Linked DNA regions of Homo sapiens. The gene in region 3 interacts genetically with the main gene of each other region. Each region holds a gene or a part of one and is shown on either strand. Other genes may lie near its edges.

What was found.
Region 1: changes in GHSR (region 3) and UCK2 together harm fitness less than expected from each alone (positive genetic interaction), as found in Homo sapiens cells (one large-scale study listed by BioGRID).
Region 2: changes in GHSR (region 3) and KSR1 together harm fitness more than expected from each alone (negative genetic interaction), as found in Homo sapiens cells (one large-scale study listed by BioGRID).
Region 4: changes in GHSR (region 3) and CLK3 together harm fitness less than expected from each alone (positive genetic interaction), as found in Homo sapiens cells (one large-scale study listed by BioGRID).

What each region holds. Positions count from the first base shown.
Region 1 is NC_000001.11:165,909,716-165,912,335, reverse strand, and holds the end of UCK2 (uridine-cytidine kinase 2), read right to left. Parts: 3' UTR 718-2,620; downstream 1-717. UniProt on the Homo sapiens protein: Phosphorylates uridine and cytidine to uridine monophosphate and cytidine monophosphate. Does not phosphorylate deoxyribonucleosides or purine ribonucleosides. Can use ATP or GTP as a phosphate donor.
Region 2 is NC_000017.11:27,462,598-27,466,464, forward strand, and holds part of KSR1 (kinase suppressor of Ras 1), read left to right. Parts: intron 1-3,867.
Region 3 is NC_000003.12:172,445,336-172,449,727, reverse strand, and holds the start of GHSR (growth hormone secretagogue receptor type 1), read left to right. Parts: upstream 1-1,271; 5' UTR 1,272-1,314; coding exon 1,315-2,110; coding exon of another isoform or gene 2,111-2,184; exon of another isoform or gene 2,185-2,185; intron 2,186-4,262; coding exon 4,263-4,392. UniProt on the Homo sapiens protein: Receptor for ghrelin, coupled to G-alpha-11 proteins. Stimulates growth hormone secretion. Also binds other growth hormone releasing peptides (GHRP) (e.g. Met-enkephalin and GHRP-6) as well as non-peptide, low molecular weight secretagogues (e.g.
Region 4 is NC_000015.10:74,625,600-74,628,399, reverse strand, and holds part of CLK3 (dual specificity protein kinase CLK3), read right to left. Parts: intron 2,599-2,800; coding exon 2,432-2,598; intron 1,049-2,431; coding exon 954-1,048; intron 862-953; coding exon 732-861; intron 431-731; coding exon 348-430; intron 1-347. UniProt on the Homo sapiens protein: Dual specificity kinase acting on both serine/threonine and tyrosine-containing substrates. Phosphorylates serine- and arginine-rich (SR) proteins of the spliceosomal complex.

The DNA.
Region 1 (2,620 bases), on a different chromosome or scaffold from region 3:
CAGCTTCCCGAGTAGCTAGGATTACAGGCATGTGCCACCACACCTAGCTAATTTTTGTTTAGTAGAGATGGGGTTTCACCCTCTTGCCCAGGCTGGTCTCAAACTCCTGGCCTCAAGCAGTCCTCCTGCCCTGGCCTCTCAAAGTGCTGGGATTATAGGCATGAGCCACCACACCCTGACAAAAGCCAATCATCTATCTTTGGTGGGTAGCCTAGGTCTTTGAAAAACAGGGATAGACACACACATACATCCATTCACTGCGTGTGGACAACATGGAACTGTTTGTGTTGTTATAATGTAAACTTTCCTCATCTTCCACCCATCTCCCTCAAAAAAGTTTACTTTAAAAGGGTTTGTTTGAGCAAGGAAGGGGCTGGGTCACCAGCCTAAGGAAGGCAATGGGGCAGAGGCCAGGTAAACTGGATGGAATCAGGGGAACATAGCGCCAGGTTGTCCTAAGAACCAAAGGCTCCCAGAAACCCTGGCCCGGGCTTCCCACTTGACAAGAACTGCAAGTCCACTAACCTGAACCAGTATCTGAGCCCAGGTGAGGCCTGGGGTCTGCCCCACATACACCCCAGGATCATGAGGCTTCGTGACAGCAGGCCCAGTGACATCTACACCACACATGCACAGCATGGCCCTTCCTGAGCCACTTGGGCCACACAGCCAGGATTCGGTCGCTGCTCTGGGCCAAGCATCACACAGAAGGCGAGAGCCTTTTTGTCTGTCTTTATTTACAGCAAAGTACATAATATGTGGTCACTTTGTAACCACTAACAATAAAGGTAGGGTGGTAAAAAGAAAAGGGAGAGGAGCAAGCATCTTAAAAGGGGGGAAAAAAAAGCCTAAGTCTGTATTTAGCTACTCACCCTGCTCCTGAGGCAGGACTGGGTAGGCACTCCCTGCCTCTAAGACCACAGCCAAGCTGACCTGGAATGCCAGTCCCCGGTATGAGGAAGGCAGCAGAACGCCCAGAGACAAAAGATTAAAGGGGACTGAGCTCTGGATGCATCCACTTATGCTTTGCCAGACAGTTCCCTTCCTTGTTTTGTTTGAATGCTTCCCCCACCCCGCCCTGAGCAAAGTGTAAAGGGCAACGGTGGTACAGAAGTACAGGCAGTCCCTTCCAGAAGCAGTCCTGAACCGCATAACCCACCTACCTAGCTGCTCCTCAGCCTGCCGAGTTCTTGGCCCTGGAATCTTTAACAGGCACATAGGAGATTCCAGGGCAGGGGAAAATATTTCCCTGCAAGAGGCTACTTCCCTCCAACAGCTGTGAGGGCCAGTGCAGGTCAAGGTTGCTAAATCAAGGAAAGTGCACAAGGGCAAGAGAGGTCATATACAAACCAACCAGGCTTCCGGCCCTCCTGCTGCCCGACTGCTCCGAGGTGTACACAAGCCTCCAGCCCGACCCAGCGGCCTAATGAAACTCTGGCAACCTATCCTGGGCGTGGCCACAAGTATCCAGCTCCAAGCCCAAGTGAGGCGGGGAGTCAACTTCCCCATGATTGCCAAGTGGCCAAGACCAGAAGCAGGGATGATTAGGCTAGTTCTGCGGCAAGGTGAACTGGAGACCCTGTCTCTGCCCTCCTTCCCTGGCCTGTCCCACAGACATCCCGTTGTTTAACCCACTGCCTTTGCAAGGACCTGCTCTGTCCACTCCAAATCAAAGGATACTTGCATCCTTCTTACACAGACTCCCATCTCTCTGCTCATAGTGGTCCCAGGCTGCCCGAGAAAAAGAAACTTGGGTCAGTAGAAGGCTCATTAGTGTGAAGGAGTGAGAGGCCAGGCCTTCCTGTGACATAATGCTTCTATGCTTGTTTCCTAAACACTTGGTCCACACACAATACCTGGGCAGGAAGAGAGAACCAAGCACCACTGGATGGCTCTGGAGCCAGGGGACTTCTATGCACATACAACCAACATCACCCCACTCTGCTCATCTGTGCCTCCACCCTGAACAGCAGAGTACCTAGATGGCAAATGTCATGGTTTCTGGTCCACTAATTCTACTCCTGACTCTCCATGGAATCAGAGACCCAGAGGCTCTTAAAAAACTAAGACCATTGTTTGTTCCATAGAAAGCTCAAGTTCAGATACAGAGTTGGCCAAATGCTGGGCTGCCACGGAGGGGTAGAGCCTTCCATCCCTTCCTTGTTCCAGAAACAGTGTGTCACAGACCCCAGCAGACACTGTTCATTGTCCCCAGCCAAGCCACCAAGAATTGGTGATCATTTGACAAGGGGCAGGGCAGCCCTTATAGCTGTTTCCAAGCTAGGAGTGGGCTATTCAGAGATATTGGAGGCTTGGTCCCAACACCACAGGTAGATGAGGAAGCAGCTAGGTAAAGGCTCAGAGATGAGAGGAGTCCATCTTCCAAGGCAGTGGGATAAACAGCCAAGGCACTAAATGGTTTGGCACCTGGGAGCTTCAAGTAAAGTTGAGCATGCTGCCCACTGAAAAGCCAAGGCTCTCCCAGACACGGGTGGGCTTCACCTGAGCACAGCCCAGTGCCATCAAGGCCAGGGGCCCTGTGTCCTCAGGATACTAACCCAGGCCTGCATTCCCTGCTTCATCTCAGAACTGATCAAGGCATGACTACAAGGATAATGAT
Region 2 (3,867 bases), on a different chromosome or scaffold from region 3:
TACTCATAATTTTTTAAATGGCTACCTGTCTTATTCTTTCTGAACAGTTCCTCTGATAAACAGTGTATTCTTTAACTTTCTACTTTTAATTAAAATATTTACAAAATACATAATGATATATGTTCACTATAAAAAAGAAAGTACTAGATGTACAACAGTGAAAATCACCCATAATGCCACCTCTCAGAGTTAATTCCAGTGCACATTTTGTTGTATATTCTTCCTGCATTTGCATATAAATGTACATGTGTATATTTGTGGCACATACCATGTGCATTGCCTTGTAAATGTCTTCTGTCTGTATCAGCACATATACATATGCATCAGCACTATTAGTGGCTGCATTGTGTGGTCATACCACAAATTCATCTAACCGGTTTCCCTGTGTGGGCCATTCAGGCTGTTTCCAAGTCTTGCTTTTATAAATGGTGCTGCAACGAGTATCTTCCTACAAGTGAGATTTGCTGGGTCAAAGTATATGAATACATTTAATATCTGTCCTCGTCTTTAATATCTTTATGGCATCATAACTCCCCCTCTCCTAAGCAGGAATGGCAGCCTTCATACATTTATCCATTTGCCACTGCATCTGTAATCACACTGACGGCCAAGAGTTTAAAAGGAGGCTGGGCCTGGGTGCGGTGGCTCATGCCTGTAATCCCAGCACCTTGAGAGGCTGAGGCTGGTGGATAGCTTGAGTCTAGGAGTTCGAAACCAGCCTGGGCAACATGGTAAACCCCGTCTCTACAAGAAATAGAAAATTAGCCATGCATGGTGGCACGCTCCTGTAGTTCTAGCTACTCAGGAGGCTGAGGTGGAGGTTGCAGTGACCTGAGATTGCATCATTGCACTCCAGCCTGGATGACAGAGAAAAAAAAAAAAAAAAAGAGGCTGGACATGGTCCTCTGGCTGAGATTCTGGGATAAGTGTCAGGAACTATGGCTTCTAGTTTTGTGGTTGCTTGTGTCTGAGGTTCTGGGCTATGTGTCAGGCATTGTGGCTTCTAGTTTTTGTGGTTACCTGCAGCAAAGGGGGGCCCCCTGGGCTGACCAATTAGAAGAAGGCCTTTTCCTTGCTCCAAGATAGCGGAGGGAGGGGCTGGATTTCAGGTCTCCCTGTCCAGAGACTGATCAGCTTTGGTAGTACATAATCATATGGTGAGGTCTTGATCACTTGAGGCTCATGAAAGTCACTTTAACTGCATTCTTGGTTGCATCCCTAACTACAAATACTGATCACAGTGCTATTTGGGGTGCCTGGCTTTGGGGATGATTTAGTAGAGTTGTGGGTTCCTAGGGCTACAAAGGGTCTTGGAATTTCCATGTGGTCCAGCCCTCTCATCTTGCAGGTGAGGAAACTGAAGGCCTGAGGGAGAACTGACTTGCCAGGAACCCCTGTTAAGCAGAATTAACAAAGGGTGGTTATTAAAGGAGCACTGAGTTGGGAGTCAGACCTGGAGGCCCACACCCTTGATTAAGACATTATACCACCTTGAGTCTGGCCTGTTGACTGAGGGTGAGCCACTCCATCCTCCTCTGATTGTGGGGTGTTGACCTCAAGGGGTTTCCTGCAGGAAGAAGCAAATGGGTTTGCTTTCCTAGCTCTGTCCCAGTGCCTTAGGGGCCCTGAGGACTGGAGAGATTCTTGGAGCGCCATCTGGGGTATGTCACGGGTGGACCTTTTTTGAAGGTCAGTCTGCTCAGTGGGCTGGCTCAGCCCGAATGAACTGTCTTGAATCTTTGGAGTTGTCTGTTTACTTTTAAGGGCTTCTCATCCTTGCACCAAAAGATCCCCTGGAAATTAGGTGGGAAATCCTTAACTTTTATGGGGCCTTGTGTTTGTCTTAAAAGTTCATGCGCATGGCCAGGTGTGGTGGCTCACACCTGTAATCCTATCCTGGATCCCTTGAGTCAAGGAGTTTGAGACCAATGTGAACAACATAGTGAGACCCTGTCTCTACAAAAAATAAAATATTAGCCAGGGGTGGTTGTGCACACCTGTTGTCCCAGCTACTACAGTGGCTGAGGCTGGAGGAGCACTTGAGCCTGCACTGAGCTGTGATCTCACCAGTGTACTCCAGCCTGGGCCACAGAGCAAGAACTTGACTCAAAAAAAAAAAAAACCAGCAAGAAAAATCCTTGCAGATTTTGCATTCTGTGCCACTATCCATTGGTTTTCATGTCAAGATAATGTAAAAATTCTTTACAATTGCTTCCAGAAGGAGTAGCCTTTTAATCTAGTGCACAGGTGTCCAGTCTTTTGGCTTCTCAGGGCCACATTGGAAGAAGAATGCTCCTGGGCCACAGATAAAATACACTAATGCTAACAATAGCTGATGAGCTTAAAAAAAAAAAAAAAGGTTTGTGCATAATTTTCATGATACCCACCACCACAGATAGGCGGAAAAGTCCTTGTAGTCAAAGGGTTGGACACGGCTGATCTAGTGTCTTGTCCGTTTTGGCTTTCTCCCTGATTCCAGAATGCAGGTAGAGATGTAGAGACGTGCTCTCAGGACAGCTGTTGAGATAAAAAAATTTGTTGTCATTTATTCCCAGGCACAGCTGTTTGTCATTTGCATTGAAAAAGTCTCCATTCAAACTGCTGTCACATATAAAATCTATTTATGTAAGTCTGTATTTTTCTGTTGTCTTGGCCTTGGTGGGCAGTAGTGTGTTTTAACTGAGCAAACTGTCTTTCCAAATAATGAAGCTGAAGTCAGCCTACCTGCTTGCCATTTTTCTTCCCCTTCCATTTTTCTAATCTCCGGATAATTGTAAGAATGAATTAAGATTTGTGTTTAAGGCCGGGCACAGTGTCTTAGGCCTATAATCCCAGCACTTTGGGAGGCAGAGACGGACGTATCGCTTGAGCTCAGGAGTTCCAGACCAGCCTGGGCGACATACTGAGACTCTGTCTTGTATAATTAAATTAAAATTTAAAAAAAGAAGAGATAAAGACCCGTGTTTAAAATTTTTAAAAAAGGGGGGAAAGTGTAATGCAAAATGTGGACTATGCCAGCTATGATTGGGAAAAATAATTTTTCATACAGCATTATCTATAGATTTGTATTAGCAGCATACTGGTCATAAGCGTTTTGCTTTCCGCAAATATGATGTGGTAAGCTACTTTAAAGTGTGGTGGGGCTTTCTTCCGCATGGCTCCTTGAGGGGTTGAGTCCCAATTTATCCAATTAATTTGGGTTTAGTTTTGATATGGATAAGGGAGACCAGCTTCATTCATGGTGCACACACAGTTTTGCCAATAAGGAAAAAAAAAAGCCACCTGAATGTTCCTACTCATTAGGAGCTATCTGGAGAGCTCCTACCCCACTCCCACCAAGGCCTGGGCCCTTAAAAAGGCTCAGTGCAGCCTTTCTGTATCTCACTGTATTCTGCAAGATGCTCCTGTGAAGAAAGTTGTGCTGCATCAGCCATCTCCCTCCTGAAGATCCCTGCGGATGAGGATTTGTGTTTTAAAGGTTCTGAGAAGTACTGCAACAACAGTTCTCAAACTTATTTGTCCAGGGGATCTTTTCTTCCACTGAACGTAGTTGGGGAGACATGGCCTTAAGCCTTGAGCAGAGAAAGAGACAAGAAACTGTTGGCTCACTTACAACCAAGTGTTGTGTTTAAGTTTTAGGTTTTTATGAAACTGAGGTGCTGTTTGAGTTTCCAAATAAAATTGGGTGGTTGAAGAGAGGCTGGTATCCCTGTAGACTTATCCAGCCATGAGAAATTGCCTTTTTTACAAAGGGAAATAGGGTGTCTCCTGGGCATCACATTAGCACTTAAATACATGTATCACTGAATCCTTCTAACAAGAAGAGGAAACTTGCCGAGAGAGGTGTGCCCGCCTGCCTGCCTGCCT
Region 3 (4,392 bases):
TCACCTTGCTAGTGTAGGGGTGGCCTTTGACCTGTTCCCACCGGCACAGCTTCTACTTCTCAACAGCAACGCGTCTTCTATTTATTGAGTGCCTCCGGTGGTCCCTGACACTTGATATCACCCCCAGTGGTCCGCACAAATCATTGCAATTCAAAGAAAAAGACGTAATGCTCAGGAGGTTGAAGACCTTGCCCAAGGGAATACGGCTACTAAATGGCTGATCTCTCTCAGTTATGCCTCAAAAAATGTTTCCTGCACACTCTCGACGCGCCAGCCTCACAGCCTCTTCTTCACTTGCCGCCTCCACACACCTCCAACCCTGCCTTTTTCCTTTCTCCTGTTCCCTCCCTGACCAACCTCGGCACCCCGCCACCAGGTTTGCATCAAGCAAAAGTAATATACCCTACAGCAGACTCTCTACCACTACCGAGTGATACAAAGGACTGGGATTCTGGACAGGGTTTACTCACATATCTTGCCCCTGTGCGCTCAGAAGTCCCAACCGGGTGGGAGATCCGACACTGGTCCCCGAGTCCCCAGCTCGCTGTGTGACCTTGGACAAGTAGTCACATCGCTGAACCTGGGTCCTATAACTGCGTGAGACTATTCTTTGGTGCTCACCGGTATGAATACAAACACAAGGTCCTTCTTTTCTCTCTCTATCCCCCTTCCCAAGTCGAGTTGGTCAAGCTCGCTTTTTCTTTCCACCAGGGCCATAGCCAGCTGCAGCCTTGTGGAGGAAGAAATCAGGTCCCAGCTGCTAAAGGTGTCCTCCCCACCGCCACCGTCGTCTTCACCCCCACCCCCGGGTGTGACCTGTCCTTCCGGGGCACACTAGTCCAGCGTCGCCCAGGGCTTCGGAGAGAGCGCCTCACGCTCCCGCTTCGCGGCGCCTGGTCCCTGCGGTCCCCACTCGCTGCGACGCTTTGGGAAGTGCGAGATGGAACTGGATCGAGAACGCAAATGCGAGGCAGGGCTGGTGACAGGTATGCGTGTGGGCGCCGGCCGGAGGATGTGTTGGGAGAAACTTTGGGGGAGTTGGTGGGGGAAAGGGGAGGTGTCAGAGAAAGCAGTGGGTCACTCTCTCACCCACTGACCACCAGTCTCTCTCCCTCTTCCTTGTCCCCATCTCACCTTCTTCCTCGGCTTCTGCCTCTCACCTCCCTCTCTTTCTTCTCCAAGCATCCTCCCTACGCGTCTGCACCCGCTCCTCCCTCGCACCCTCCCGCGCCTAAGCGGACCTCCTCGGGAGCCAGCTCGGTCCAGCCTCCCAGCGCAGTCACGTCCCAGAGCCTGTTCAGCTGAGCCGGCAGCATGTGGAACGCGACGCCCAGCGAAGAGCCGGGGTTCAACCTCACACTGGCCGACCTGGACTGGGATGCTTCCCCCGGCAACGACTCGCTGGGCGACGAGCTGCTGCAGCTCTTCCCCGCGCCGCTGCTGGCGGGCGTCACAGCCACCTGCGTGGCACTCTTCGTGGTGGGCATCGCTGGCAACCTGCTCACCATGCTGGTGGTGTCGCGCTTCCGCGAGCTGCGCACCACCACCAACCTCTACCTGTCCAGCATGGCCTTCTCCGATCTGCTCATCTTCCTCTGCATGCCCCTGGACCTCGTTCGCCTCTGGCAGTACCGGCCCTGGAACTTCGGCGACCTCCTCTGCAAACTCTTCCAATTCGTCAGTGAGAGCTGCACCTACGCCACGGTGCTCACCATCACAGCGCTGAGCGTCGAGCGCTACTTCGCCATCTGCTTCCCACTCCGGGCCAAGGTGGTGGTCACCAAGGGGCGGGTGAAGCTGGTCATCTTCGTCATCTGGGCCGTGGCCTTCTGCAGCGCCGGGCCCATCTTCGTGCTAGTCGGGGTGGAGCACGAGAACGGCACCGACCCTTGGGACACCAACGAGTGCCGCCCCACCGAGTTTGCGGTGCGCTCTGGACTGCTCACGGTCATGGTGTGGGTGTCCAGCATCTTCTTCTTCCTTCCTGTCTTCTGTCTCACGGTCCTCTACAGTCTCATCGGCAGGAAGCTGTGGCGGAGGAGGCGCGGCGATGCTGTCGTGGGTGCCTCGCTCAGGGACCAGAACCACAAGCAAACCGTGAAAATGCTGGGTGGGTCTCAGCGCGCGCTCAGGCTTTCTCTCGCGGGTCCTATCCTCTCCCTGTGCCTTCTCCCTTCTCTCTGAGTCTCCATCTCTATTTCCCCCTGAGTCGCTACCTCTTTCTTCAGTTTCTCTGGGCCTCTGTCTCTCTGCGTTTCTCTCAATTATTCTCTCCTCTTGCTTTCTTGAGTGATGTTTTTGATCTCTCAATCTTTCTCTCTGTCTCTGTCTCTCTCTCTCCTCCCCCTTTACTTTGTCAGTGTCTTTCTTACCGTCTCTATCTCTTTGTGTCTCTTTCTTCCTGTCTCTCCTTTCTCTCTTTCATGCAAAAATGTCCCATATTTGTATTTCCCTAAAATAAATTTTATATCAGCCCAGAAACTCCACTTTAAAAATCGAGATATCTTATAAAAGTCCATTGTGGTCTTTAAGCGTTAAAAGTGAGGACTGACTTCCTGCCTCAAGTAGGATTTGTGAATATCTAAGTTACATTAAGAAAAGCAGGGTTTGGATCTAGAAAGCGTTCAGCGGTAAATTCAACCAAAGACATGATCAATTTGGATAATCCTCTTAGAGATTATTCATTTTTCTTTCAATATTGTGATTTGTTTTCTGCCCTGCATTTTTTCAGATAATTGCATCAATTCTGTTTACCCTGCTGCTGTTCATACAGCTTTGTAAGGAAGTCAGTGACAAATCAGTGAAGTCTCATTTGTTTTTATGATTACCTGCCTCTTCAGGTAGGATAGACTAGGATAAGGTAAGGATAAACTAGATTAAACAAAGCTCCAACAGGAGGAAAGGAGACTTTGTGGAAACCAACAGAATTCACTACTTCCCCAAATGACCCTTCAGGAACATCTGGGCACAATGTCATAACTGGATTTGCTGAATGTTTATTGCACAAATTCAGCTTCTTTAAGTATATGTGTTTGGTACAAGTGAAGTAATAATAAATATGGTTACAGCCCAGCAAAATATTAACTCTACTTGCATTTTCAAAACCAAGGTCTGTATATTTTATTATTTAGATATTATAGTCAAGACTTCATACTTAATGGCATATTTTAAGGCTTCTTAGAAGCCATTCCAGGATGATTTCATATTTCCAATTTTACAGTTCCTGGATCCTCCATATTAAAGTGATAGAGTTTATTCAAGGAATGTCAAAGATTTTATTTTCTGGACCGGTGATTCTCGTGATATGACTCATAGGTTATAAACCTGCTAGTGTCCTCCAAGGGATCCTAAGCTCTCACCTACGAGAGTCACATTGTTACTGTGGCAGTTAAGTTGCTACTATACAACTTAGTTTTAAGGATAAGTTTAATAATTTCCTCCAATTTTATTTTCAAGCCATTAATTTCTTCATTGGTGTCTCAACACCAATGTTAACTTTCTTCTTCCTTGACAATTTGAAGGGGATCACTAAAGTGTTACAACGACTAAAAAATTATTTGTTATTATTTTTCCCTGATTTCTGAATTTAAAACAATCTAAACATTTAGACATCATTAAAAATTATCTTACATAGGCAAAATGAAGACTTGGATGGATGATAATTTATATGAGTTGGTTTAATAATAGCCTTACTTATGTCTATTGTAAGTGGCATAGAATCATTCATCTCAGTGATTCTTAATCCTAACTGTATATTCAATCCTCTGTGAAACTTAAAAAAAAAAAAGAGAAGATAAAACATATGTCCTGATCGCCCTCTTAGAGATTTAAATTGACTGAGTCTATACTACATCCAAGGAATCTGCATTGTTTTAAAAAGTGCCCCAGGAGACTCGGATACACAGCTATGGTTGAGTACAACCACTTTACCTCGTAAGTGTGTCTGTTGTGTCTAACACATAAAAACTGCTGGACTATTGTGAATAAATGGTCTAGTCAGTTGAGTCAATGTGTCAACTCAGTACAAAATCACTCAGATAGTTGTTAAATAGAAATGACTGGGGAGCTCAGTAAAAATTGTTGAACTGTTGGTCCAGACAGACTGAATCTTTGTTAAAATGTTGGAACAGGAAGAGCAGGACACAATGTTTCTCTGAAGTCAATGGTCATAGACCATGAAACAAAAACAAAGTCTTAAAAATAGAATGTGATTTGCTGTGACATTTCTTGAGCTGACTATCTCTCTCCCATTGTCCTTTTAGCTGTAGTGGTGTTTGCCTTCATCCTCTGCTGGCTCCCCTTCCACGTAGGGCGATATTTATTTTCCAAATCCTTTGAGCCTGGCTCCTTGGAGATTGCTCAGATCAGCCAGTACTGCAACCTCGTGTCCTT
Region 4 (2,800 bases), on a different chromosome or scaffold from region 3:
CATTTCTCTCTGGTTAGCTCTTCACTCCCTGCCCAGAACATGCCCTGTCCCAGCCCATCCCGATGCCTTTAGTCATCTGTGCCCCTTATCTAGAAGGTCAGGTCACCTCCTACCCCATCCTCCATCCTCGATGGCCTAGCATAAGACTCCTCTGAGTGTTCCAGCTACCCTGACCTCTGCCTTCCCTTTAGCATCTACATCCTTAAAGGGTCTGAATCTCACATGATGATTAGTGGGAGGAGGAAGACACCTGTCTTCTCATCCATGTGGGGCTTCCCACCCCAGTGGCCTGCAGCCTATCACAGTAGCAGTACTCAGGGTAGGGGACCAATGCAGGGTGGCTGTACCTGGAAGAGTGTGAAGCCCCGGTAGTACTCAAAGAGAATGCAGCCAATGCTCCAGACGTCACAGGGCTGTGCCCAGCCCAGCTCTGCAAGCCAAGATGGGGAGAGGCTGTGAGATCCGGCCTTATGCTTCCAGCCTGGAAGTCACAAGGCAGCCACCACACCGGCTGGCAGGACTCTTGCCCAAATCCCAGTACGAGGCCCTCTCTCAGTAAGGCTGACAGATAAAGCCAGGTCAGTCACCTGTGTCTCATGACACTGGCCCCTTGGTCTGAGAAACTCTGCCTGCCCTGGGTGGCAGAGAATGACAGGCATGCCACTGCCTCTGCTCATACCCTCCCAACAACAGTCCAGTATGACAAGGTCACAGGCCATACAGTCACTCACCAAGGATCACCTCAGGCGGGCGATAGTGACGGGTGGCCACAATGGTGGTGTGGTGCTCATGGTCAAATGTGGCACTGCCAAAGTCAGCCACTCGGATGCTGGTGTTCTTCACTGACTTCTCCTCACAGCTCTGAAAGGCAAGGCAGGCCTGCCAGGTCAGGAGTCTGCACCAGCGGGTAACCCACCCCTGAAACAGGGCCTCACCCTTACCCCCACCAATACCTTGTGCTCATTGTAGAGGGTTTCAAACTCAGAATTCACAAACAGGATGTTCTCTGGTTTCAAGTCTGTATGGGTCAGCTGATTCTCATGCAGAACTAAGGTAGCAGGGAAAGAAGGGGAAGTAGGCACTGAGAAGCTGGCTCTCCTGCCAGCTCTAGGCCAGACCCCTCTTCCAATGCCAGCAACTGCCAGAGGTCCTCACACCCCCACCTCAGCAGGGAGCTGGACTACAGCCTGCCTCTGTGCTGGCCTCCCTCTCAAGGGTTCTCTGTACTTGAGGCCTTGGAGGGTTCTGATACTTTAGCAGGGGGGTAGGAAAGAAATTTGCCATTCGAAAAACCTCCCTCCACCTCTCCTCTGCAGAGACCAGGCCTCCTCACCTGTCTCTCAGCAGAGCTACAGCAACAGCCTCGAGGTGGTTCCCTCTTCCCTGCACCAGCTACATAATTTGCAGGGCCCTTTGCAAAATGAAAATGCAGGTCCCCTGTTCAAGTTACTAAGAATATTAAGGTGGTGGCAAAAGGACATTAAATCAAGCACAGGGTCCTGTGCGACTGAGTGCACAGGTCGCATACCCAGGAAGACAGCCCCGCCTCTCATTGCTAGTCATAAGCAGGCAAGCCTTTCCCCTCCAGCCCCTTCTGACAGTGGCTTCTTGCTAGTAGTCACTTTTCAGCTCAAGGATCCCATCTGGCACTCAAGACCCTCACAACTATGTGGCCCACCACTCCCCAGTGGCAGTCTACTCCACTGGAGCCAATTCTCAGCCCGTTAACAGGCTCCAGGCCTCACCAAGCTGTTCCCCTTGCTTGGAATCCTTGTCCCTGTCCCATCTTGCAGATCCTGTGGGAGGAGGAAGACACCTGTCTTCTCATCCATGTGGGGCTTCCCACCCCAGTGGCCTGCAGCCTATCACAGTAGCAGTGCTCAGGGTAGGGGAGCGATGCGGGGTGACCTTGAGCGATTCTAGCTCAACGCCTACCAACTTCACCAAGGAGCCTTTCTGTACTGCTGCAACCATTGCAAATCCTACTGCGCTGAGCCCTGGCACTGCCAAATAATGCTTTTCCAGGCTGGCAGGGAGATGACAAGTCAGGGTTAGACCGAGGGTCTCCATGTGGGCAGGACCTGTGGTGCTATCTGTCAGGTCAGGCTTCTACCTTTTTATCCCATGCATGAAGCAGGGAGGCAGGGTTGGTGGTTAGGCCAATTCCAGAGCAGTTCGTTTCTGTTTTCTTCCTGAGTGCCTGGGGGTAGAGAGGCTGGTCCAGGAGGTCCCTGGAGGGAGCCCTAGCCTTTCCATCCTCACACTGAGATTCCCACCCAAAGACAGGCCTTTCCGCCAAAGGGGATCTGGTGTCCCTCAGGCCCAGGAGAATGGTTAGTAACGTGCTGGAATGAATGGGGACAACAAGTAACCAGATGACTTGGCTGCAGGCATGTGGCTGCCCATGCTTCTTTTGAGGGTGGACACTTACATCTAAGGGCGTGGCAGAGCTGGTAGGCCATGTGCCGGACATGTGGTAGGGGGTAAGGCTGGAAGTTATTCTCCTTCAGGAACTCAAAGGTGTTCTTGCCCAGGAGCTCAAAGGCGATGCACATGTGACCGTGGAAGTTGAACCAGTCAGACATCAAGACACACAGGCTGGAGGAGGAGGATGGGCAGGGCTCAGGCTGTGTGCTGGGGGCCTGCCTCACCCCCTCTCTCAGATGAAGACAGTTCCCAACTCTCTCCTAGGCCACCGGGTCACACACCAGAATGCAGATACACACAGTGCAAGAGAAATCAGAGCAAGAGCACCTCTCCCCACCAGCCATCACCCAATACCCAGATGAGCTCTGGGCAA